Linked DNA regions of Homo sapiens. The protein of the gene in region 1 purifies or fractionates together with the protein of each later gene. This does not show direct contact. Each region holds a gene or a part of one and is shown in the gene's direction. Other genes may lie near its edges. The genes, in order: PTCH1, SEMA6A, TGFBR3, UGT3A2, SPPL2B, TMEM132A and TMEM131.

Region 1 (3,500 bases):
AATATATGCTAGATGAGAAAGAGTCCGTGTGTGTGCATGCGCGTGTGTGTGCGTGTGTAGGAATTGGTGATAAGAATTATTGTATTCTGTTGTTAAAATGTCCATATAATGATTGCCTTTTAATAAACTGTCAATTATATGTTAAGATACCAGCTTGAGTTTTAGGGTTATAGTGTTTGCTAATCAAAATTGTCAAATCAGTTTCACATATGTGCGGAGTAATGAGGTTTGATAGAGAATATGTTGACTGATGTAGTGGACATCTGCTGTTGCAGAAACACATGACCATGGCAGCAAGGTGGGGGAGAAACTAATTGTCATTGTATAAAAATAGAAGCGTTCATTCTGCACATGTTCTCAGTACCTACTCTGCACCACCATTGCAGAAAGCTCTCCAGAGAGATGTTGGTGAAAAGCCACAGTCTCTGCCCTCAGGGGAACTCCATCCAAACATTCAGCAGGTACACGGACTGGTGTGTGGGTAGTTAACATGAAGGACAGCAGTGCCAAGATGGCAGGAAAATCGGGGACATCTTCCAGGATGGCCTCAAGGGTGGAGGCCTGAGCTAGGCACAGGGGCTGGAGGGGAGAGGGTAGGGGGCATTCAGGGCAGAAGGAACAGCATAGGCAAAGGCTCAGAGAACAGGAATGTGGCCTCCTGGAGGGCAGCCTCCCTTTGTGGGTCGTTGAGGTTGGGTGGGAGCCTGGAAGCTGGGCTCGTCCCTCAGGGCCATTTCACAGAAGTCTCCCTGCTTGGCTGGGGGCTGTCAGCTCTTCCTACTAGCCATCCCTGTCTCACGAGTGTGCTCACGTGTTGGCCTCTAGTGTTTTCCCTGGAGCCACGAATGCTTCACCTGGATCTCACCTTTCTGGGCACAGACTGGTGTTATTTTTAATCTTGCCTGTTTCTTTGTTGGTATTTCCTTTTTGTTAAGCAGTTTTAACCCATCTCCCTCAGTATCTATTTCTTTTCATATCAGCCCCCTCACTGCAGCCCTCCCTCAGAACAAGTTTCTTGTCAAGCTTCTCCAGCGATAGAACATTCATTTATTTCTTTGAGCTTTTTGTTTTTTCTAAAAGCTTGCCCAGCTCCTGGCCTCCTTTTCTGCAGAGGGCAGCAGCCTTGTAATGAATCCATATTGCTTTGGTGTTTGGATGTTAACATTGCTGCAGGCCAGCGTCAAGGAAGAAGGAGGCAAGTTGTGACTTTGACTTTTTTTTTTTTTTAAGAAAAATAGAAGAAATTGTTTTTTAAAATACATGCTTGGTATGTGTAAGTGCTTTCAAGTTTGTACCTTGCTAGTGTTAATGCTTTCAGTGTTCTTGAACTCAGGCAATCAGTTGTAGGAGATAACTGAGTTTCACCACTCCTTCAATTTGGAGCAAGGTCCCTCAACCTCAGGACTATTGACATTGGGGCTGGATCATCCTCTGTTGTTGGGGGCTGTTCTGTGCACTATAAGATGTTTAGCAGCATCCTGGTTTCTACCTACTAGATGCCAGTAGCACCCTCCCAGTTGTGACAACCAGAATGTTTCCAGTCATTGCCAGATGTCACTGGGGGAGAGGGTGTCCCAAATCATCACGATTGAGACCCACTGGTTTAGATGATAAAAAGATTTTGATTGGAAGACTCATGCTGTGCAGATGGAAGACGTTTATTATGATGGAGTTGTGGCTACAATGCATTGCAGAGATGCAAGAGTATTAATCTTCTTTAAGATAACTCCCCCATCCCATTCCTGTATTTATAGACCCAGATAACTATTTTTCTTAGAATGACATTAAATGTCAAAGAAAAACACCGTGATGGGTCGAAAGAGGAAAGAGGCCATGGAAGAAAGAAATAATTTATATTTGGGTACCTTTTGGTGGGGGGTATCTAAATTTGCAGAAAGACTGGTTGCACCTCAACCCCAGTAGCCTGAAGGTTTTTAGCATGGTTGACTTTCTGAAAAGCTTTAATAGAAGACACCACTGCCTTTGTGCATATTGAAATAACAGCTCCTTCAGAAGCCCGGCTAGTGTGTGAACTCCTTGGTGGTCTCATTCTCCTCCAGATGTTTCTGTCACAAACCACTCCCCCTTGTCCCCCCAGGAGCCCTTGTGGAGCAGAACCAAGGGACAGCAAGGGACCAGTCCCAGCCAGAAGGGCAGAATGGATTCTGCTGTCACTGCCCTTCCACAGTGAGCACCTGGTTTCTTTTCTCTGGGGTTGCCATTGTGGGGGCATTTCACAAGGGACAGGAAGAAAAATGCAGCTCCTTTCTGCTCCCTGGACCCCCATACATGGTTTAGAAGGGAGAATATGTTTATAGGTATTTATTAGTTTCTACTACTGGGTATGCACATTTAGGTGGAAGCAGTTGTGATATTTCTTTCATATTTGGAGAAAAACGATTGGAAATGAGAAGCCACCAATGATTGTTTAAAAAAGAACAAATAGCCCTCAGGTGTCTTCTACACAGGGCAGTTGACCCTGCGAATCCTCCCTATCTCTTTGCTGTCTGCCATTCTTGACCCTTCACCAAGTTGAGAGGACAGGTTGGGTAATGGGGTGTTTCAGATACATAGGATGCCGCTCAGAGGTTCCAGAAGATGACAGCTTCCAGATGTATGAACAGCCTGATCCGTGTGTTTAGATTATGCACCACAGCTGATGCCGAGATTAATGCTGGCTGGACAAGCCATGGGAGATTTGTCTGGTTTCCACAATGCCATGTTTATGTTTCATTTGAGTTTCTCCTTCAAAGCTGACCTGCCTGTGACCCTGGGCTCTGTCCACTCGGGCAAGCTGAAACTCGGGCAAGCTGAAACTCGTCTGCCCTGTTCTCCTGCTTGTATTGGGGTAGGGGAGAGTCACAATTGGGCGGAGAAAGGGGCGCTTTGGTGGCCGCCTTCTGCCTCACCATGCCAGCTATCTGCCCAGATTTAGCCCCTGATGAGTGTTCAGTTCTCCTCGGGGATGTGTTTCACTGTAAAAGGTTTTTTGGCTTTTAAAACAAATATGGAAATATTATAAAATAACTGTAAAGGGGACCAGATTTAATAGAAGCCACTTTGCATAAATGTAGTATTTTAACTTCTGGCACTCTTTTGACACTATTTAGGGGGAGAAAAAGTTGAGGGAATTTCAGCTATGTCAGACACCCCCACATAATAACCATGGCTGTGTCATCCTATTATAATACTATTAATGTTTCCTGTGCCCCTCGCTGGCTCCCAGAACCTCTGCTGCCTCCTCCCTCTCTCCCCTGCCCCCTTCCCTCCTGCCCCTTCTCCCGCCCACCCACTCTAACCTGCCCACGTCATTTCCTTCCAAGTGGATCTCTGCAGTTACTAGTGTGAACTCTGAAATGGTAGTAAGTCTGGCTAATCACAACCTAAGAGGAGGGAATGAGAACATTTATTATTTCAAGCCAGCTGTGGGAGATACTAGATACAGAGCTGCCATTTGCATCCTTGGCATTCTTATTTTGGTTAGGGTTGGTTCCAAGACC
Region 2 (3,500 bases), on another chromosome or scaffold:
TGCATTATTTTAATTGAAAATTATAAATAGTAAACCTATTCTTCCTAACTTATAGGATTACTGGGAAAATAATACGAAATCATGAATGTGAATGTATTTAGTGAAATATTACACGCATTGTGGAAATTTGGGAAGTTTGATGTTAACCCCCTCTTTCCCACTCTGGACCCTGGATATAACAGAGATCCTACTTCATCTTCTAAATTATTTTTGGTAGAATATACACTGTTCATGTAGTTTTAATGTAAATCACATTATGCAACTAAATAATATGTTCAAATTCATTGAAATTGTACAGTTCACCTAGAGCATGGATAGCAACTTTATTAATTAGAACACCTACCATGTCAAGGAAACATTGCTTTCAACATTATCATTAAATCAGGCAAGGTCATAGGAGTACCATTCTGCCAGGAATTAGTTTAAAAGTAAGATAATTGTTTTTGCTCAGTTAAATTCTGAAATAGTTCAAATCAGTGTAACGATTAATATGTCAGGGTGAACCAGGACTAGTAGAAGTTTCCATCTTTGTCATAACAAGGCCGAATTCGTTAGATCTTGTGGCGTGAGGTTAATAAATGTGAAGGGACCGTTGGAGGGAAGGTAGTGGACAACTCTAGAGGCATTGCGGAGGTCATGCTTTTTTGACAGACAATGCACGTGGATTTGTTTTGCCATTTACCAACAGTGTGACTTTATGCCAGTTTCCTTTCTCCTTCAGTTTTCATTTGCAAAGTGCTAGTATGATGATAATGTTATGGTTTTGAGAAGAATAAATGTGCTAACATCTGTAAAATGCATGTCACAATGCCGGGCACACAACAAGCAGTCATTCAACATAAGGTATTATTTTTACTTGAGTAACAGTAGTTACGAAAAATGTCCTAGGAATGGATTTTGAAAAAGCAGATAGTACTTTTATTCTGGGGGGCAGGGGAAATAGTAGAAAAGGAAATGGCTACGAATCTGTAATATAAAGAGATGATGCAAAAGAAAACAACCTTTGGACTAGAAACAAACATTCATACCATAAACAGGCCATAATGTCATGGGTTTTAAGTTGAGAAGCATGTGAATACATCACTTGCAGGGAAACAGGAAACAGGGAAACTTTGGAATTTGAAATATCACACCCAAAACATGGAAGGAAAAAACCACTATATATAAAAAATAATAATAATAACAAGCAGAGCCTTATATCAAATAGGAGCCCAAGGGATAGTTTTTGAAAAATGATAGCTATCACTTATTAACATTTTAATAATAAAATGTACACTCTGCACCTACATTTAGAATCTGAAAGCAACTCATAATGACAATTTTAGGGATGAGTTGAATTCCCAAGGACCACACCTGTCTTAGGAGAGAAACTCGGCTGCTGATTGGAACCCTTGAGGAGGTTGTGGCTAGGACTTCTGCAAGAGGGTCTTCAGGTTGGGCATGCATCTGCCAGGTCACTCTTCCCTGGCCAAGCTTGAAATCAATTTGGGAGCAAAAGCAAACTACTGCCTTCCACACCAAAGGTAGGAAATAATTGGCTGACCCCAGTAGAGATAGCAGTTATTCTGCTGACAGACACACTACTACAAAACCTGAAATTTGATTCAAATGATAGTCATACAAGTTCTTATCAGTGAGAAAAATCTGACTTCTAAAAGGCACAGCAGAAGGGGAAATAAATTGATGTTATCACCACAATTCCCTGCTACCATTATGTTTTCCAGGAATGCCTCCATGGCTTAGAGTTACAGTTATTTTCAACTAGGAAATAAAATGTTCTCAAACTCTGTAAGTGGAAACAGAATGGAAAGAGTGTGAGATAAATCAGTAATTAACATGCTGCAAGGACCGAAGTTTCAGATCCTTCTTAGCAGCCAGTATGGTGACTTTTGCTTAGAAAGCATTGTTAGTAATAGATACTTCCTCATGCAGCCTTTAGACTTGAAGCTTTCTTTTAATATTCCTAGGTGCTTTCTAGGAATTTCCAACTAACCTATAATTGTCATCTGTAGAACATTAAATTCAAAGAATCCATGCCAATTAAAAAAATTTAGCAGAAGAAGCTCTAAAGTTGGTGCTGTTTACGCCTTTCTTAGCCCTTCTGCCCCTCTACGCTTCAAAGACCAGCCTTTGGCCATGATTTGATTAGAAGCATTTATAGAACAGAACAGGATCTGGCATTAAATACAATGAAAACATGCCATTGGAAAATAAACATTGTTAGAGACTACGAAGAAATAAAGATTGTATTAATTATGTTTTAATGTTCTATGAGGGTTTTACAGACAAGCTGTGATAGATCCATTCTTCTTTCCCTGTTCCTATTCCTGATTCGTTTTTTAAAGAAAAGTATTCAGTCTTTTCATTAATATTGCAGCGACTTCAGCACTTCCCCGCCCCTCCCCCAGACTCCTACTGTCCTTGAATGAGGAAACTGAGAGAATACTGATTGAGCTGGTGAATGGAAACGTTCCTTTCCTGAAAATGGAATGCTTTACAAAAAATTGCATTCCACAAAAAAACACTCAAAACAATTCAACAACTGTCCCTCCTCCTTTCTACCCAGAGAGCCACTTGATTTCATTCACATATTTTGGTTTTTCAATGTATTTGTTCTTAGGCCTAAAATACCCAGGTGGAAAACCATTCTATTAAGCCTTTCACTATTTTAAAAACATGAGCATCTGAGTTTCTAAGAACATTCTCATTCCTGCATAGTGAGCGATAAATAGAAACCAAATTGTTTGTAGCATTCTAAACTCAAGTATATTGGCAGAATGGCAGTGGAGTTGATTTTTATAAGAATACTTGTTAATGGTTTTCGAGACGGATTCTGTGCTAATTCTTCTTGTATCATGAATGATGGCCCTAGCTAGACACTGTCGCTGGGATCTTCATCTGTTAATCATGGAGGCTGCTTTCTTATTCGGTTGCCATAGTTTCAGTGCCTCACATAGTGTTGGGGTGTCTTGGGAAAGGTTTGAGATATACTAGGGCTTGCAAGCCTTGCAGTTATTTTGACAGTTGTGCTCTGAAAGACTGAAAACCGCTTCTCGTATAATTCAGTGTTGGATTAAAAGAGGCAACTTCTGAGAGTGTCTCCCTGGACCTTGTTATGTGCACATCCAGCTGGTATTTAATCCAGGATTTGCCTCTTGCTCAGTCTTGCTGGCAAAAAAAATAAATAAATAAAAATACAGTACAGAGGCTGATGTCACTTTCATATTTCAACAAGAAAGCAAAGGGACGCAAACTCTTCATTAAGACTATTCACAAATGTGGAGGTAAATGAGGCCATTCATGACTTTGCTTAAAATTTCTGCTCCATAATTTGGCTTTGGCTTTGCAGATTACTAAATAAATAAAATGACATCATGATTGCTGTGTGCCGTGTGTTATTTTGGCAATGGAAACATGTAGAGCTTTACTTCAGGTTTAACCTTTCCTTTTTTACACTTGACACTCATTGCTAAGGAGCTAGAGACCATTTTACTGTATTT
Region 3 (3,500 bases), on another chromosome or scaffold:
TCTTCAGGCTCCTAACAGTATTGGCTTTGGAAAAGAGAGTGAAAGATCTATGACAATGACCAAATCAATAAGAGATGACATTCCTTCAACCCAAGGGAATCTGGTGAAGTGGGCTTTGGACAATGGCTATAGTCCAATAACTTCATACACAATGGCTCCTGTGGCTAATAGATTTCATCTTCGGCTTGAAAATAATGGTAAGTTAGAAGTTTTTTAAGTTATGTAAAAAATACCCCCCAAATGAAGCTTTTCCAGTGAGGAACTGTCATTTCAGCTTATATGTTGCTGTTTTTCTCTTGTACATTTTAATAATTTGACTACTTTTTATCAGAAGGCTTAAAATTACCTAGACAGAGATTTTGAGGAAACTGTAATACAGATTTTCAGTGACATAGAGTTGAATGCATATTCAGAGAACTTTGTTATAGGTTATCTTTAGTGTGATTACATTAGGTTCTTCTCTCCGAGACACCTAATGACCACTTATGGCTGAGAATACAGAAGAGTTAAGACTGCAGGAAAGAAGTTCATGGTAAAAGGCTGTATCTTTTAGGAAAATAGTCACGAGGACTCATACTTGAGTGTTCATACCCAGAGGATGGCAGGAGTTACTACCCCAGCTGAATGGGGTGGAAAGCAGAGGGTCAACAAATTCTTGAGGTTTTCTGGAGTCTTCTAGCTAGCATGACTTGAAACCCTAGTTTTGTGATCCCTAGACCTGTTCCTCAGCTCATGGTACCACCACTGAGTGAAATGCCAATAGAATAAGGATTAGGAGTACAGGTTCAAGCCCCAGCTCTACCATTTAGTCACTGTTTGGGGAGAAGTTGCTTCACCTCTGAGCCACAGATTTTTCTTCAGTAATAAGGGGAAAATAATAGGACAGACCTTACAGGGTTGTTGTGAAGGTTTTCGTGAAAGTACAAATTAAAAACCCTACAAAGCTATGACTTATTTTGGACCCTTACAGCTCTAGCGTCCTTTCCAAAGAATATTATTAAAGGAGAGATAATGTCCAACTATCATCTTCACTTCCAGCTTCCACTGAGATGGATTTGACCTCAAGTGTACATCAGTTGGCCTTAGATAGTAGATATAAAGAATACTGGGGAAATTATTATTTTTTTAGTTGTTAGAAATACGACAAAATATTGAGTATTGATTGTATGGAAATACGTCTCTCCCTTTGAAGGAATAAATGTATCTATGCAGCTATTTCTTATCTTTCAAGGGAATATGTTCCAAAAGGCCAAGGTGCCCAGATACCTGTTAAAATTTAGCTGTCAAAAAGAAGGTGGTGAAGTAATTTTAACATACCAATATTGTTTCAAGACATCATTAGAGAAATTATTCAAAAGACTCTCTTGATTCAAGGAAAGTATTTTAGTGGCATTTCAATGGAATAATATTGCATCATGTAACTTAAATCACAGATTTTTCTAGCTTGGACAGCCTTAGAAACTGTCTGTTCCATTGGTTCTCAGTCTTAGGTGCACATTGCAGTTACACATGGAGAGACTAAAACATATTAATGATTGGGTACCACCCCAGAGAGTCTGAGTTTAAATTGTTTGGGGTACAACCTGGGCGTAGGAATATTTTTTAAAGCTCCCAAGTGATTTTCATGTGTAGCCAAAGTTAAGAACCACTGATCATTTCCAACCACTTAATTTAAAAAATTGGAAAAGCAAATTTGAGGCACAGAGAAGCAAGCCGCTTGCCTAAAGCCACTGAGCTAGTTAGAGAGAACACCAGGACTAGAATTCAGGCTTCTAGACTTCTAATGACCTTTATGCACTGCTTATTAAAAGTCATTTTACACCTGCCCATTCTATGCTAATTCCTCCTGTTCTGCCTGTAATGATGTTGGTTGTGGCCTGGCATCAAACACTGCTGATGTTTTGCCTTCTTCTTTCACCAGCAGAGGAGATGGGAGATGAGGAAGTCCACACTATTCCTCCTGAGCTACGGATCCTGCTGGACCCTGGTGCCCTGCCTGCCCTGCAGAACCCGCCCATCCGGGGAGGGGAAGGCCAAAATGGAGGCCTTCCGTTTCCTTTCCCAGATATTTCCAGGAGAGTCTGGAATGAAGAGGGAGAAGATGGGCTCCCTCGGCCAAAGGACCCTGTCATTCCCAGCATACAACTGTTTCCTGGTCTCAGAGAGCCAGAAGAGGTGCAAGGGAGCGTGGATATTGCCCTGTCTGTCAAATGTGACAATGAGAAGATGATCGTGGCTGTAGAAAAAGATTCTTTTCAGGTCGGTGCAGCTGATTACAGGAGGGAAGAGAGGCTACCTCCTTTCCCATCTGGCCCTAGTCTGCATCTGTAATTTCTCCCTATCTCTTTCATTTTTGAACTCCGGAGGCTTGATACTGTTTTCTCAGTTGGATGGGCCTACTTCCCCTTGGCTGTGATTCTCACCTGGTTCCTGTTGTTCTCAGTGACAGGGGGTGGGGGTTCCAGATCCTTGTGTGTCAATATTTTGCTATTGAATTTCCAAGGCCAACAGATACTACCCTTGAGCTGTTGAGAGGTGGGCAGCTGGGAAGAGATACTTGGGGAAGGGGCACGATGCAGGCCTCTCATCGCCTGTCCTTGGAAGACCAGGCAATTGTCAATTGTGTCAATTATACAACAGAACTGCCTGTGGGCCTCCAACCATGTCTTTGGTGGTTGTTGTTTTAGGCCAGTGGCTACTCGGGGATGGACGTCACCCTGTTGGATCCTACCTGCAAGGCCAAGATGAATGGCACACACTTTGTTTTGGAGTCTCCTCTGAATGGCTGCGGTACTCGGCCCCGGTGGTCAGCCCTTGATGGTGTGGTCTACTATAACTCCGTGAGTGTTTTCCAGAACAAAGCTTTGCCCTTTGCCAGAGCCTGGCTGTGTGCTCCCTTAAAGTTAGTCTTAACATTTCTTTGAAGATGAAGAGGGTTTTCACCCCAGGCCTGAAGAAAGCCAAGTGTCAGTTCTCAACAAAATGGATGTACTTTGACCCTGAGCTCTTTGGTTTTATTTGTTTTATTGGTGAGTCTTTGGGAATTGGAAGGCCTGTTTTCTCACCCCCCGTTTCCGTCTCCTGATGACAAAGGCTGCACTGTCAAGGTGATTATGACTTCTCTCAGTGCCCAAGCTCAACTGGCCCTTATAAGGATAAAATTTTAAGGCCCTGGGCTATATGAACGAGCAGCACCTCTGCACAGCCGGGTTAACCAGATGTGTGGTCTCTCTGGCCTCATTTGAGTCTCGTCCAGAAGTAGGAGAACTTCTCCCTCCTTCATGAATAAAAATCCAAAAAGAGAATTTAAAACTCAAAAAGGACCTTTAAGGAATTATTAAGTCTCTCTCCACCTCTAAGAAAGACCATACATTGAAGAAACTCTCCTACTTTTGAAGTTACTTGGAGAAAGATTCCACAGATTTCCCCCAATGATAAACCGTTGCAATAGCTAAGCTGCATTTTCCAGAAATCTTTCTTCTCAGTTGGTCAAAATCTTT
Region 4 (3,996 bases), on another chromosome or scaffold:
GAGAGTGCACCACTGCACTCTAGCCTGGGTGACAGAGCGAGACTCTGTCTCAAAAAAAAAAAAAATCTATCAATATAATTGTTGAATAAATAAAAATCTTGGAGTTTGATAACAAATCCTTTATTTTGCTAATGCATTATGAAAAGTACAAGAATAAGACGAACTGGAGCCTTGTGATGTCTGGTAAACCTCGCCCTTCCCACACTTTTCTCTCTCTCTCTCTCTCTCTCTCTCTCTCTCTCTCTCTCTCTCTCTCCTCTTTCTCCACAATAGGCATGGCTAGGTGAGGGATGCACAAATGCATAAGAATGTAATGCTTTAAATTCCAATGAGAAAAAATAACCCCTGTAGACTGAAGAAGGCAGGAATAGAACACGCAGAATTCAAGGACCCACTGCAACCAAGGATTTCTCTGCTTATTTAGAGTTGCACTGAAAGCCTTTCCTAAAGGAAGTCTTAGTTTGAGGATAGAGAGTAAAGGGGACTACCGGACCTGGTGATCCCTGACCTCACTGGGGCTGACATTGCACGGAGGCAGAATTACAAGCTGTCATCAGCATGTGCTCTTGGAAATTATGGAAAGATTCACCAGTCCTATTTCAGGATACTCATTCAGAATGATAGTCTCAGCTTTTGAATTTCAGTCCTCCAGGGACAGACCTGGACTTCCAGAGGTAGGACTCTAGCCTCTTTTCAGGAATGTTACCTTCTAAAGAGACACTAAGAGATAGATTCCAGGGATGGTAGATTGATTTCCCTTGGGGATTCCCTTCCAGGGAGGTCTTGGGCTTGGAACATCAGCTCAAGATTTTAAGCAAGTCTCTCAGGAAATAGATCGCGGGGCTGGCAGTATGAGGTAATAGAGGCAGTTAGAAGGGAACTAGAGTAGGTAAATTCACACAGCCTTTGCAAAAGAGAGGTGGGTCCCATGGAGATAGAGCTTTCATCAGCTCGATTTACTGAGGTCCCTGCCATTCCTCACTCACAGTAAGGATTTTCCAGGCAGGAGGGCTGTGATCACAAGGGCAGAGCAGGGTTAAGTATGGGCTCACCGACCCCTCCTACTGACTGCTGGTAGTTTGGTAGAGCGAGGATAGATTATCCAATGGAGCACGAGGGAGGAGGGGCAGAGGGCAAGAGGGGATGGACAGAAGAGAAGACTGGCAGGATCCTTACTCCTACCTCTACCCACAGCCAGTGCCTTTGGCGCACTGAGGTGCACAGGGTCCCTTAGCCGGGCGCAGGGCGCGCAGCCCAGGCTGAGATCCGCGGCTTCCGTAGAAGTGAGCATGGCTGGGCAGCGAGTGCTTCTTCTAGTGGGCTTCCTTCTCCCTGGGGTCCTGCTCTCAGAGGCTGCCAAAATCCTGACAATATCTACAGTAGGTGAGTGCTTGGCCGGAGAATTCCCAGACAGGCGCGTCCCGGATACTCGCACTGCCAGGGCTCCAGAGAACAGCGCTTGATCAGAGTCATCCACGTGATTTTCCAGGCTGGGCTTGCGGACCCGGCTGGAGGAGGGAGAAGCCCATTCAGCTGTGGGGCAGAGAGGGGCCTCTATTGCTGAGGTGGGGAAGAAAGTTTTGGAGAAAAGAGATTCTCCTTTACTGTCTTCTTCCTGTTCAGGACGCGCCCCCATCCCGCAGGGCTGGGGCCAGAAATTTGAGACTCATCCCAGAGCTTGAGTTCCTGGGCTGCCTTCTCCAGGGCGCAGTGGGACTTTCAGAGGCTCACCTTAAGCTCCGGAGGGTGCGTGTGTGTGGGTGCACAGTAGCTTCCAGTAGAAACAGTGGTGAGCGTTTTCAGGCTCTTGGAGACCAGGGAAAGGCCCTCCTGAGGGCAGCACTGCAAATGTTGTGAAGCTGCATCCGGAGCCAGGGTGGCGCAGGCAGGTATTTCATGGCTGCAATGCCAGTGGAGTGTTTTCCACCAGGGGAAACCTGGAGAACTGCCGAGGGCTGAGGAGAAGATCCAGGTCATTCGCATCTTTTGGAGTATCTTTCCTTTTACCTGTGCCGCTGACCGTTATTTGAGGGATTCATGGGACTGTTAATTCTGCATTTTGGGTCTCAGTTTTACTTCTTTTACTTTTACCCCAAAGGGAATAGAAGATAAAAGAGAAACATATATGAACATAAAGGGATCATCTCAGGATCGAGCTTCCCCAAGACTTTATTTCAACCCATAGTGGGTTCTAATGGATTCCTTTTAGATCATGGAGAATTAGGGCTCGTAGGGCTGGGAAGAACCACAGATCATCTAATTTAGTGCCCATTTTCATTTCCTGAGAGGGCAATTGAAGGATGGGGAGTGAGATGCCTTCCTTAAGAGCACTTGTGGCCTCCCTGATGTCCCATGAGGAATTAACTCAGGGTTTTCTTACTGCAAGACCATGCTCACCACAACTTCCACTCTGAAGCCCTTTTCACTGGGGATTTTCAAAAATCACTGTTTAAGAAACAGTGCAAGTCCATTTGAAGACTTTTTCCCCCTCTTTCTGAGTGTTAGTAGCAGTGAAGCAACAGAGCTTCTTAACTTCTTGAAAGTACACAGCCCTCCTTCCTCAGGCTCCAAGAAGGAGTTGATGTCATTTCTGAGGTGCTAGAATGCTGATTTTTGCCCCAGAAAGCCACCTGACTCCCCAAGATCCACCGCTAACAGCTGTTTCTGTGGGGACCCCTTCTTCCCAGCTCCCTGTTCTTACGTGGATTAAAATGTGAGCAAGACCTGTTGCAGATTTGTACTTTATACGTCCCTTGTTGCTCCAGACTATTCAAGCCTGGGTATAAGTAAACTGAGTCATTCAGAGAGCTGAACACTACTTCTCTACTCCCTTCCACCCCCACCCCGCAGGCTTTTGGTATTTACTATTACATTACCTTCTCTTCTGATCTTCCTTTCTCTGCTGCTGAGAACCTTAGATTCAAGCAAAGGCTGTGTATTAGAACATGTACTGAGAAGACATTGATTTCGTGGAACTTGTACCTCTTTTGAGGATCAAGCTTCTCTTTCCTTAGGATGGATGTTTCTGGAATCAATGATTCCCTAGTCTCTCGTGCAACCAGGATCCAGCAGGCCCACCCCAAGCGCCCCACAGTTGTCCTCAAATGTCTTAATTAGAACTTGATCATTGTGTGGCCTAAATTAAGTACATCCTTTCAAAATACATTGGAATCTTAAGGATTTGGATTCTAAGTAGTGGCCCCTCATTCCTTCTGTTCCAGTGATGATTTCTTGGACCAATCTCTTAAGGTTTCTATCTCCTACAGCAGCAGAAATGTCCAAAGAGCAGGATCCCAGAAACAGCTCTCATTGTTTTTTAGGAACTATTCACACTCATATGTACAACACCATACCTGTATTTCCACCAGTGCCGTGATTTCTTTTGGACTCTGTGTCTCCATAAGGCCTTAGTTAAAATATACATGTACCTCAGGATGAGGAACTCCCATGGCTAAGCACATAGTAGCTCATTACACTGACATGGATACCGTGATTCACAAGAGGCAATCTCTCACGGACCAGAGCCACAGGTAAAAATTTGGGCGGCCATGCTCTGGGTGAGTGGGCTGGGTTTTACCCAGAGGGACATGAGGAGACTGGCAAAACTCATCTTCCTCCAATCACTATCCACTTCTGTTTCCTTACCTTTCCTCTCCTGGATTGATCACTACTGACTTCAGACACTGTATTCTCATCATTCCAGAACTGAAGTTGTGCATTGTTCCTAGGTGGAAGCCATTATCTACTGATGGACCGGGTTTCTCAGATTCTTCAAGATCACGGTCATAATGTCACCATGCTTAACCACAAAAGAGGTCCTTTTATGCCAGGTATCTTTTCTCACTTTTCTTGATTTCTCCTACTCCAAGCAAAGAGCAAAATGCTGTTTGCATAGAAAGGCTTAGCAAAATGTTTTTTAAAAATCTAATTCAATTGGAAGGATGAAAAGCTTGTGTGTGTGTGTATGTAAAGTGCCAAAAAACTTCTTAGTCTCTA
Region 5 (3,500 bases), on another chromosome or scaffold:
GACTCTGGGGCTTCGTGGGGCCAGGAGAGAGCCGAAGTTGCGGCTGGCTGCAGGGGCCGTGGCCTTGTGCAGGAGGCAGTTCTGTGCTTTGCCCCAGGGCACCAACCGCATGGCAGCCCCACCCACTGTGGACCCAGAGGTTCTTTGAGGAAACCTGGTGTGGCACAAGTTTTAATTTAATAAACAGTTTGGGCACGGGGGCTCATGCCTGTAATCCCAGCACTTTGGGAGGTGAGGCGGGCAGATCACTTGAGGTCAGGAGTTTGAGACCAGCCTGGCCAACATGACAAAACCCCATCTCTACTAAAAATACAAAAAAATTTGCCTGGCATTGTGGTGTGTGCCTGTAATCCCAGCTACTTGGGAGGCTGAGGCAGGAGAATTGCTTGAACCTGGGAGGTGGAGGTTGCAGCGAGTCAAGATCGTGCCACCAAACTCCAGCCTGGGTGACAGAGTGAGACTCCATCTCAAAAACAAAATAAAAACAGTTTGGAGGGGTCAGTGCCCAAGCCCTCCTGCGCACGCACCCTCTGCCTGGCCCCTGCCTACAGCCTGTGACCCCTGCCTACAGCGTGACGCCCACCATCCGGGGACAGTGACTGAGGGGACGCAGCCGGCCAGGCCCGTGTCCACCATCCTGGCCCCACCATCCGGGGACAGCGACTGAGGGGACGCAGCCGGCCAGGCCCGTGTCCACCGTCCTGGCCCCACCATCTGGGGACAGCGACCGAGGAGACGCAGCCGGCCAGGCCTGTGTCCACTGTCCTGGCTGCCGAGTGGTGGGCTCCTCTACCTGCTTCCGCAGGGTGGGCCCTGGGGTGGGGCCTGTGCCGCCAGCCCTGCTGGAGTTGTAACAGCAGGGGTCCTCCCACAGGTCTGGGGTCCTCAGAGTCATCCCCTGGGCAGGTGGAAGGGCAGTGGGGCTGCGTGCTGGCTGAGAGCAAGGGCCCTGTGTGGCTCGTGGGAGGCGGCGTCCTGGGTGGTCAGCCAGCCTCTGCCCCGGCGAGGATGCTGCTTTGTCTTGCAGGTGGGCCTGGGTCCTCCAGGATGCCCTGGGCATCGCCTTCTGCCTCTACATGCTGAAGACCATCCGTCTGCCCACCTTCAAGGTGAGTGCAGGGAGGGCACGGCTGCGGGGCAGCATGGGTAGTGGGGGCCCTTCATCCTAGCCTGGCCCGTGTGGGGCTGTGGTCCTTGCAGGTCTGTGCTCCTGCTCACTGCCCTGGGGATGGCCGCCTAGGCCTGTTGTGAAGGGTGGGGCTTGAAGATTGGGTCCCAAAGCCCCCGCTGAGGCGGCCTGGGTGGGTGGCTGCGGGGCGGTTCCCGGCAGGGGCAACTCATGTCTAGATGAGGTGGTGGTGAGAGTGGTTGAATAGGGCTGGAGGAACTGGCCTCAGGTGGTACCGGGAGTGCGGGGATGTTGTCAAGCCCCAGGCGGCTGCACTCCCGTGAGGGCCCCACAGCACCCCAAGCAAGCGGCATTTGAATGCCCAGGATGGCCCTCTGTATCCCCAGAGCCGGCCCTGCGTGGCACAGGCCTCCGCCCTCCCGTCCCCGCCTTCCTGTTACGTGGAGACTCTAAAAGCCTGACTTTTGCCCGTAAATCCCTACCTGATGTTGCTTCCAAAGCTCCTCCTGCGTGGTGCGTCCCTGGCACTGGGCACGCTCTGCTCAGGTTCCTTTAAAGGCTGCCTCCCAGGAGGAGGCGCTGGGCCTCATGAGATGGGAGTGGGGGAGGCACGGGCCGGGGTGGGGGCCGCCCTCAGCCGTGGGCTTCGCAGGCCTGCACGCTGCTGCTGCTGGTGCTGTTCCTCTACGACATCTTCTTCGTGTTCATCACGCCCTTCCTGACCAAGGTAGGCGACTGCCTGTCCCTGCTCCACCCCATCACCCCGCTCCCCCGCCCCCTCGCAACCCCCGCCCCATCACCCCCCCCATCACCCCGCCCCCTCGTCCCGCCCCCTCGTCCCCCTCCACCCCACACCGTGCTCCCCTGCCCCCCACCCCATCACCCCGCTCACCTCCACCCCATCACCCTGCTCCCCTGCCCCATCACCCCCCATCACCCTGCCCCTTGCACCCCCCCATCGCATCACCCTGCCCCCTCGCCCCATCACCCCACTCCCCTGCCCCCCCACCCCATCACCACGCTCCCTCACTCAACCCCATTCTGTGCAGAGTGGGAGCAGCATCATGGTGGAGGTGGCCACTGGGCCCTCGGACTCAGCCACCCGTGAGAAGGTGTGTCTTCTGACTGCAGGGTCTCAGGTTGCCATGGGTCAAGGTGTTGCGCGGAGCGGATAGGGCTCGAGGCATCCCGCGGCCGGGTGAGGGTCCTGGAGGACATTGTCCTCTTCCCGTCTTTGCAGCTGCCCATGGTCCTGAAGGTGCCCAGGCTGAACTCCTCACCTCTGGCCCTGTGTGACCGGCCCTTCTCCCTCCTGGGTTTCGGAGACATTTTGGTGCCAGGTACTGAGGCGGGTGGAGCACACGGGTCCACGCTGTGGGGCAGGGCCCCGGGCGGCTGAGGTTTGCCTTTGGGAGTGAGTGGCCCGCACACCGTCGGCTGGAGATAAAGCCCTGAGGGTCAGAGTCGGGCAGGTTGGGGCCGTTGAGGCCTGGGTGCCTGGGCAGCGAGGGCATTGCCTGGGTGGGGTAGGGACCCCCTTTGTTCCTAGGGAGCGGGGAAGGCCCCCCGATTGCAGACAGCCTCACCCCATCCTGCTCGGGGTTGTGCAGGGGTCCTTGCTGGGGCCTGGATCCCGGGTCCCAGTGAGCTCATGTTGCTGCAGAAGGCAGAGACTGTACCCTCGCAGCCTCAGTGTCCCCAGGGTCCTGCCAGGTGTGTCTGCCTGGACTTTGTTCTCACTGTGGTCTCAGTTTACCCACTGAGAGTCATGGCAGCCCTGTCCCGAGCGAGCGTGTGGCCTGTCTGTGAAATGACAGCAGCCACCAGGCAGCGAGAGGCCCACGGCGCCCACAGGTGCTCAGGTGCCCGCCCGCTCCCAGGAAGCCCCTGCTCTGAGGCTCTGCGGGCCCGAGTAAGCCTCCGCCCTGTGCCTCCCCCAGGGCTGCTGGTGGCCTACTGCCACAGGTTTGACATCCAGGTACAGTCCTCCAGGGTATACTTCGTGGCCTGCACCATCGGTAAGTGCCTCGGTTGGGCCCGTGCTGGCCTCTCTGGCTCCAGCCCCACCCCGACTTAGCCTCTGTCCTGACCCTGACCCCTAACCCCAACCCCAACCCTAACCCTAATTCCAACTCTAACACCGTAACCATAACACCCTAACCCTAACCCCCTGGCCACTCCGGGAGCTGGGCTCGGGTGGCTGGGCCTGTGCCTGCATCCCCCTCTTTCTCATTCTCCCCGGGCCTGTGCCTGCAACCCCCTCTTTCTCATTCTTCCTGGGCCTGTGCCTCTGTCCCCATCTTCCTCATTCTTCCTGGGCCCGTGCCTGCATCCCCCTCTTTCTCATTCTCCCCGGGCCTGTGCCTGCAAC
Region 6 (3,500 bases), on another chromosome or scaffold:
CCTGCTTCCACCAAATGATCCTTTCTCTGGGCCGTTCACATTCCCCCAAAAAGCCCAGCTGCAGTTCTGCGGTTGTGAACTCTTCTTATTCATGCCCTGAGCCTGGGTCAAGGCCATGGACTCAGTAGCCCCAGTTCGAATTCTGGTTCTGATGCTTTTGGGATGGGCAAAACCTTGGGCAAGCCAGTTAACATTCCCCTACCCAAGCCTCAGTTTCTTCACTTGTGAAATAGGAATAATAATGCATCCCTTAGCATTTTTGAAAATAAAATACAGTGCTACATATCAGGCACCCAGGACGGTTCCCAGCACATAGGTTTTTGTTTGATCAAAGGAAGCTTATCATTCAGAGGGTCAAGTGTCTGGTCCTGGGACCTGGAAGTGAATCTCCCGCATGCCACCTCAGTGGCTGTGGAAAGCGGAAGTCTGGGGGAAGCGGGCCCGGGCAGGCAGGGGAGTGAGCCACCTTGCCAGGTGGGAGGTGGTTAAATGGCTTCATGGATCTTAGAGAGGCCAAGAGTGGGTCAGAGTTTGGGGTCTAGAGCGAGGATGCTTGGGTTTAGATCCCAGCCCCGCTACTTTTTGCTGTGTGGTCTTAAGTGAGCTATGTAACCTCTGTGCCTCAGTTTCCTCCTGTGTAAAATGGGGATAATCATGAATGCAGGAAGTGCTGAGGCCATGCCTGGCAGCTAGCAAGCATTTGGCTTCTCTGTCTCCTTTGGCCAGCAGTCCCCTTGAACTGTCTGAGTTCCTATGGGTGGACTTTGTGGTGGAGAATAGCACTGGTGGGGGCGTAGCGGTCACTCGCCCCGTCACGTGGCAGCTGGAGTACCCAGGCCAGGCCCCTGAAGCAGAGAAGGACAAAATGGTGTGGGAAATCCTGGTGTCTGAGCGGGACATCAGAGCCCTTATCCCACTGGCCAAGGTAAGGAGACCTCCATCTCTGCCTGGGAAGGCTGGAGGCCAAGTCCCAGGAGCCCCATGAGCTGAGGGGCCTGGGGCTGAGCCCCTCCTCCACCCCCAGGCTGAGGAGCTGGTGAATACAGCACCACTGACTGGAGTGCCCCAGCATGTCCCCGTGCGCCTTGTCACTGTGGACGGCGGGGGGGCCTTGGTGGAGGTGACAGAGCATGTCGGCTGCGAGTCTGCCAACACACAGGTCCTGCAGGTGAGTGGCAGGTGCCCAGCTCATGTGAGTCTGCATTTGTGTGGGCACAGTTACGCACACACACCTTTCCTCCTTCCTCATGTGGGTCCCCAAGAGAACAGCTTCTTCTTGAGACGAGAAACCTCATGGGAGGAACCACAGCTTCAACTTCTTTTGTTCCAGCCACCTCTCTCCCGAGTCAAGTAACCCTAACAGCCCCCCGACCTTAGACACTTTCACGCTCATTATTGCACTGGCAAGTGCGCTGGCCTGAGAGAGTCGAGAGCACATACTCTGGGATCAGAAAGTTTTAGTTTGAAACACATCTTTGTTGTCAACCAGCTTTGTGATCATGGGCTGGTCTCTTAACCTCTCTGAGCCTCGTTACCTAAACTTTAAAATGAGAACATATCTTCGGGTTGTTGTAAGAATTAAAAGCACTTTAAGACAGTATTTAGCAGATAGCAGGGGCTGAAACAATGGCAGTTATTGCTGTTATAATATGATGTAATAATTATACAATGGTAAAAATTATTATTATTATTATTACCGGTGATTGTGAAGTGAAATAAAAGGGAGGGTGGTAGAGCAACTTCCTCTATCTTGAAGTTCTAAGAGGGGAAGCATGGAGTCTGCATGTATGCAAATCCCAGCCACCTGAAGGGGGAAGGTGCCTTTCCCCACTTGTGGTCCTTTGCTCAAATGTGTGTGGTTCCTGCTGGAGGGCCTTGGTGGGAGATCTGCTTTGTCCCACCTCTGCCTACCTGGCTGTAGCTGGTTGCCAGGTGGCTCCAAGAGCAATGTCAAAGGCCAGCATGAATAAGGAGCCAAAGTTTTGGGTTCACACCCCTGCTCTGCCAGGAGGAAGACTGGTATGCAATGGCCAGTTCCCCTGACTGAGCCCCAGGGAACCTCAAGGAATGGCCCCTACAGTAAAATCTTAAACAAAGAACAGGGGCTTAACCAACAATCCTGCTGCAACATGCATTCCAGTGACACACAGAGCTGAACTCAGTGGGAGCCCGTCCTACGGCCTGAGGTCAGGGCTGCTCTCTTCTGGCCCATGCCTTTTTTTTTTTTTTAATCTATTTATTTTGAAACAGAGTCTCACTCTGTCCCCAGGCTGGAGTGCAATGGTACAGTCCGGCTCACTGCAGTCTCAGCTACCCAGGCTCAAGGGATCCTCCCACCTCAGCCTCCCCAGTAGCTAGGACTACAGGCATGTGCCACCACACCCGGCTGATTTATTGTATTTTTTGTAGAGAGGGAGTTTTGCCATGTTGCCCAGGCTGGTCTCAAACTCCTGGACTCAAGCGATCCACCCACCTCGGCCTCTCAGAGTGCTGGGACTACAGGCATGAGCCACCCACCCGGCCCAGCCTCACACCTGTCTTTAGTGGCTTAGCCCGCCCACCTGCCCTCTGCCCTTCCATAGGTGTCTGAGGCCTGTGATGCCGTGTTCGTGGCTGGCAAGGAGAGCCGGGGCGCCCGGGGGGTGCGAGTGGACTTCTGGTGGCGCCGGCTCCGCGCCTCGCTGCGGCTGACCGTGTGGGCCCCCCTGCTACCGCTGCGTATCGAGCTCACCGACACCACCCTCGAGCAGGTCCGCGGCTGGAGGGTACCTGGCCCTGCTGAAGGGTGAGTGGAGGCCTGAGGAAGCTGGCAGGCCTTGGCGAGTCACACTGGGACGGAGAGGGCGCAGGGGACACAGCCATGGGCCCAAGTCGGGGTCAGAAAAACTGCCCTGTTGCTTGCAGTTCCTTCTGCCCACCTCCACCCTGGGCCGCCCAGCCAATGATCGCTTTCTGTGAAATTGCTGACTTCCGCATCCCTCTCCTCCTTCCCTGCCTCACTTCTCCCGTAGCACCCTCCACTTCCTAATCTACGTCAGTACTGGTTAATGTTGCCTGTCCATCCTTTCCACGCTCCTCCCCCGAGAATGTCAGCCCCTTGAAGCTGCGGTCTGTCTATGCTGGTCGTACCCTCAGAGCCTAAGATGACACAGAGCTCAGGAAATGAACACCCTCGGAGGGGGCTCCCCAAAACCCAGGGAGAGGTGGCCCACGCCTCTGGAATCTAGCTTCCAGGCCCTTCAGAGAGTGAGCGCCCCCAGGGTCCCCGTAAGAGAGCGTCTCCCCTGCGGTCCACTTGGGAGCAAGAGCGGTGATCGAGGCACAGCGCCAGTCGGGAGTGGGCTGGGGCGGCTCGCCTGCAGGTGGAAGGGCCTGACCCCAAGAGGGGCGGATGTCTGCGTTTGAGAAACAGGAGCTGCTGGTGATTAGGAGCCGCCGGGGACGAGCTGCGGGTCTCCAGCAGCTGGGCCCTGGGCAGGCTGGGGCCGCTCAGCGCTGAC
Region 7 (3,500 bases), on another chromosome or scaffold:
TTAAATGAGAATTGAACCTCTGAACAGGGCTTTTTTCATAGGCACCCATGCAACTGAGTAGCTGCTATTAAGCTTAAACTTTGGCTTTATGATAAAGCCATCTGTGCTCAGAGTCCACATAGTAAAGCTCAGCTCCTCATCGGATGAGAATATTTGATCAATGAATGTAGGAGGACACTGGCACACTTCACACAGTGTTTATGAGAGTATCTATGCCTGCTGCTCACTGTGGAGAGTTCTAGGGAGGGTCTGGAGCAGCTACGGAGGTGGGGCTGGCCTCAGGGTTCATCCTGTGAGCTCAGTGAGGACTCTCAAGGAATAAAAATCACATAGGCAGCATACTTCATGATACAGTTGTCAAGAAATAGTATTATAGAAGACATTAATGCCACAGTAATTTCTACATTTGTGGTAAAGTGTTCTCTATGCTGCTGAGAGACCACATTCATGCCTACCAGTGTCAGTATCACGAGGTACATTGTCTTCCCTTACAGAGGAGGAGGCGGCTAATTTTTGTATTTTTAGTAGAGACAGGGTTTCACCATGTTGGCCAGGCTGGTCTCAAACTCCTGACCTCAGGTGATCTGGCTGCCTCAGCCTGGCAAAGTGCTGGGATTACCGACGTGAGGCACTGCACCCAGCCAGGATAAGAGCATTTAGGACCCACCCTTCACAGATGTGCCGGAAAATTCTCCACATGGTCTGCAAGGGTGAAGAGCTGCTCTGCAAGGGTGAAGAGCTACTCTTCTCTAGCTCCTGTATTGACCACCCACTTAATCTTTCCCTTCTTGAGATAAATGCGATGTCATTAGTGTTGGTTCTTCTGAGATCGTAGGCTCTAAGATAATTGTTTCTTAAAGAAATATGTAAAATTAAATAACAACAGCAAAGGGAAAGCATCTTTAAGAGCAAATGCTACATTTCTTAAAAGTAGGTTTTTAATATCATGTGAAAATCCCCCCACCATTCACCTCTCCCACTGCCATGCTGGATCCCCACACAAAATACCTCTGAGATTGCTGTGAAAATCAGTCAGGAAGTGTGTGTTATTTAACTTTTAATATTGTTAGAATGCACCTTATATATGTATTAACTCTGCAGTGTTCATTTATCAAGCATCTTTCTCATCAAAAGTTATTCTTCATGATTTTCAACAGAATTTTCTTGAGCTTTTTGACCACTTTATTTGCTATGTATGATACAATGTCATGAAATGCTTAAATGTGGCCCTTGTAATCAGTCTTACGTCAGAACAAATAGTGAAAAATTGAAAGCATCCAGAGATGGCTAACTAGCAAGCAGAGAAATAAGAGGCTGAATGGGAATTTTTAAAATGGAAAGTCTGTGTCTGCCATAGTCAAACACTAGATGTCATACCATTTCCTTGTTCTTTTTTGTCATGAGGTTGGATGACACACATTTGCGGAACTCACATATGAATTCTTCACATAAATGGAAGTGTTCCTAAAGTACTCTAAGAGGATAAACATAAACAGCTTCTTTATTTGCTTTGAAAAGAACCATCTAATGGGTACCTAGATTGGACCCAACTGAATCAATTTCTGTAATTCCTTATTTATTTATTTATTTTTTAATTTTTGTTTTTTTGGGTCAGAGTCTCGCTTTGTTGCCCAGGCTGGAGTGCAATGGCGCAATCTCGGCTCACTGCAGCCTCCACCTCCCAGGCTCAAGCGATTCTCCTGCCTCAGCCTGCCAACTAGCTGAGATTACAGGCACGTGCCACCACACCTGGCTAGTTTTTGTGTTTTTAGTAGAGACAGGGTTTCACCATGTTGGCCAGGTTTGTCTCGAACTCCTGACCTCAGGTGATCTGGCTGCCTCAGCCTGGCAAAGTGCTGGGATTACCGATGTGAGGCACTGCACCCAGCCAGGATTATTCAAAACTGCTATGAAATCTGAAGTTTTTACTTCATCTAAGATGAGGACAATATAATATGATGACAGGAGGGGATTTATCTCCTCTTATACCATGAGTTTTAGGGTTGGCTGGTTTTTGAGAAGAGCTCTGAATTCTTGACTTTTCTTATACCATGCTACTTTATTGGTGATAGAGCAAGACTTTGGCCATACAAGAAATGTTATTTCTTTCTCAGTTCAAGTGTAAATCAGCAGGGCTAAGTGGGGGGTAATTTTGCCTCCAAGGGGATATCTGGCAATGCAGAGAGGCATTTTGGTAGTCACAGCTGCAGGGATGCTACTGCCGTCTAGCAAGTAGAGGTCCGGGATGCTGCTAAACATCCTACAGTACACACAACAGCCTCCGCAACGAAGAATTAATCTGGCCTAAAATGTTAACAGTGCCAAGGATGAGAAATTCTGCTGTAAGTAAAGCCAAAGCCTGTGGCTACAGCAAAGCAGCTTAGGTACAGTGTTTTACCTCCTGAACCATGCTCACCAGCTAATTCCTTATCTGCTTATCTTATTACAGGAAATATAAAACATTTTCCCCCTTTTGTATGAAAAATGTGATGTTTCATTTAAAATGTTATAAAAAGTGTTCTGTTGGCCAATTTGGAAGCTCAACTTTTTTTTTTTTTAAGATTTTGTCAATTTACATAAATTCACTAATTCTCTTTGGTAGTAAAAGGTAACAGAGATTATTTTTTATGCTTCCTTTCAGCATCGAAGGCAAAAAAGCCATCTCAGTTTTCTGGGAAAATAACAGTTAAAGCAAAGGAAAAGAGTTATTCTAAACTTGAAATACCATATCAAGCAGAAGTTTTAGATGGGTGAGTTTCTTTTTAAAATAAATTCTATTACTTTTTACTAATCAGTAAATTATATTTTCCTGCTAAATGACCTGCAGAAATACTAGCCACGTTCACATAAACTTGATGGAATTATTTTTTGAAAGAACAGCCCCAACTATAAAAGAGAAAACCTCCTATATTTTGTTTATATTTTACTTTTTTAGAAGAAAAGGGTAAGTGGGATGATAGGATTTGGGCTTAAATGAAGACTTAATGATTCAAAAATCTGATTTTTTAAATATTATTTAAATCATTTGAACCATTTCCTTTCTGACATTTGTTTGTAATATGTAAGTGATTGTGGCCTATTATTAAAGTATTTTGACACTCGAAACAGAATTCTTTATATTCCTTTATAAATTCATAAACACTTCTAGAATTACAACTTTTTATAAATGGGAAGTGACATGTTCATTTTCTATTGTACTTTAACCAATAGTAGTTTAATACTCAACTTGGCAAAGATTCATTTTAGCAAAGCTCCTTGTAATTCAGTGATAAGCATGATTTTTTTCAAAGTAAAGCTTTTTTTGTTGATATGTCTTTGATTCTAATTGTATGATTCATATAATTCATTAGAGAATGGTTGTTTGTATTAATTTCAGTATTTTGCAAGCTAAATTTTGTTTTAAATCATATAGTCAATCACTAAAATATTATAGTTCTAAATCTTTAATACAATCCCTAATGCTAAATGTAAATTATTACTTACAACAGAAGAACTTGGAT

The links.
Region 2: the proteins of PTCH1 (region 1) and SEMA6A purify together in Homo sapiens (affinity purification with mass spectrometry; 3 studies listed by BioGRID and IntAct, with this or other methods). This does not show direct contact.
Region 3: the proteins of PTCH1 (region 1) and TGFBR3 purify together in Homo sapiens (affinity purification with mass spectrometry; 3 studies listed by BioGRID and IntAct, with this or other methods). This does not show direct contact.
Region 4: the proteins of PTCH1 (region 1) and UGT3A2 purify together in Homo sapiens (affinity purification with mass spectrometry; 3 studies listed by BioGRID and IntAct, with this or other methods). This does not show direct contact.
Region 5: the proteins of PTCH1 (region 1) and SPPL2B purify together in Homo sapiens (affinity purification with mass spectrometry; 3 studies listed by BioGRID and IntAct, with this or other methods). This does not show direct contact.
Region 6: the proteins of PTCH1 (region 1) and TMEM132A purify together in Homo sapiens (affinity purification with mass spectrometry; 3 studies listed by BioGRID and IntAct, with this or other methods). This does not show direct contact.
Region 7: the proteins of PTCH1 (region 1) and TMEM131 purify together in Homo sapiens (affinity purification with mass spectrometry; 3 studies listed by BioGRID and IntAct, with this or other methods). This does not show direct contact.

Annotation. Positions count from the first base shown.
Region 1 is NC_000009.12:95,499,267-95,502,766, reverse strand, and holds part of PTCH1 (protein patched homolog 1), read left to right. Parts: intron 1-3,500.
Region 2 is NC_000005.10:116,564,824-116,568,323, reverse strand, and holds part of SEMA6A (semaphorin-6A isoform 2 precursor), read left to right. Parts: intron 1-3,500. UniProt on the Homo sapiens protein: Cell surface receptor for PLXNA2 that plays an important role in cell-cell signaling. Required for normal granule cell migration in the developing cerebellum.
Region 3 is NC_000001.11:91,718,652-91,722,151, reverse strand, and holds part of TGFBR3 (transforming growth factor beta receptor type 3 isoform a precursor), read left to right. Parts: intron 1-7; coding exon 8-197; intron 198-1,921; coding exon 1,922-2,259; intron 2,260-2,687; coding exon 2,688-2,840; intron 2,841-3,500. UniProt on the Homo sapiens protein: Cell surface receptor that regulates diverse cellular processes including cell proliferation, differentiation, migration, and apoptosis.
Region 4 is NC_000005.10:36,064,083-36,068,078, reverse strand, and holds the start of UGT3A2 (UDP-glucuronosyltransferase 3A2 isoform 1 precursor), read left to right. Parts: upstream 1-1,196; 5' UTR 1,197-1,289; coding exon 1,290-1,383; intron 1,384-3,728; coding exon 3,729-3,830; intron 3,831-3,996. UniProt on the Homo sapiens protein: UDP-glucuronosyltransferases catalyze phase II biotransformation reactions in which lipophilic substrates are conjugated with glucuronic acid to increase water solubility and enhance excretion.
Region 5 is NC_000019.10:2,342,184-2,345,683, forward strand, and holds part of SPPL2B (signal peptide peptidase-like 2B isoform 2 precursor), read left to right. Parts: intron 1-1,027; coding exon 1,028-1,109; intron 1,110-1,781; coding exon 1,782-1,856; intron 1,857-2,178; coding exon 2,179-2,241; intron 2,242-2,369; coding exon 2,370-2,469; intron 2,470-3,069; coding exon 3,070-3,147; intron 3,148-3,500. UniProt on the Homo sapiens protein: Intramembrane-cleaving aspartic protease (I-CLiP) that cleaves type II membrane signal peptides in the hydrophobic plane of the membrane. Functions in ITM2B and TNF processing.
Region 6 is NC_000011.10:60,930,960-60,934,459, forward strand, and holds part of TMEM132A (transmembrane protein 132A isoform b precursor), read left to right. Parts: intron 1-726; coding exon of another isoform or gene 727-729; coding exon 730-925; intron 926-1,024; coding exon 1,025-1,168; intron 1,169-2,582; coding exon 2,583-2,785; intron 2,786-3,500. UniProt on the Homo sapiens protein: May play a role in embryonic and postnatal development of the brain. Increased resistance to cell death induced by serum starvation in cultured cells. Regulates cAMP-induced GFAP gene expression via STAT3 phosphorylation.
Region 7 is NC_000002.12:97,814,449-97,817,948, reverse strand, and holds part of TMEM131 (transmembrane protein 131 precursor), read left to right. Parts: intron 1-2,641; coding exon 2,642-2,750; intron 2,751-3,500.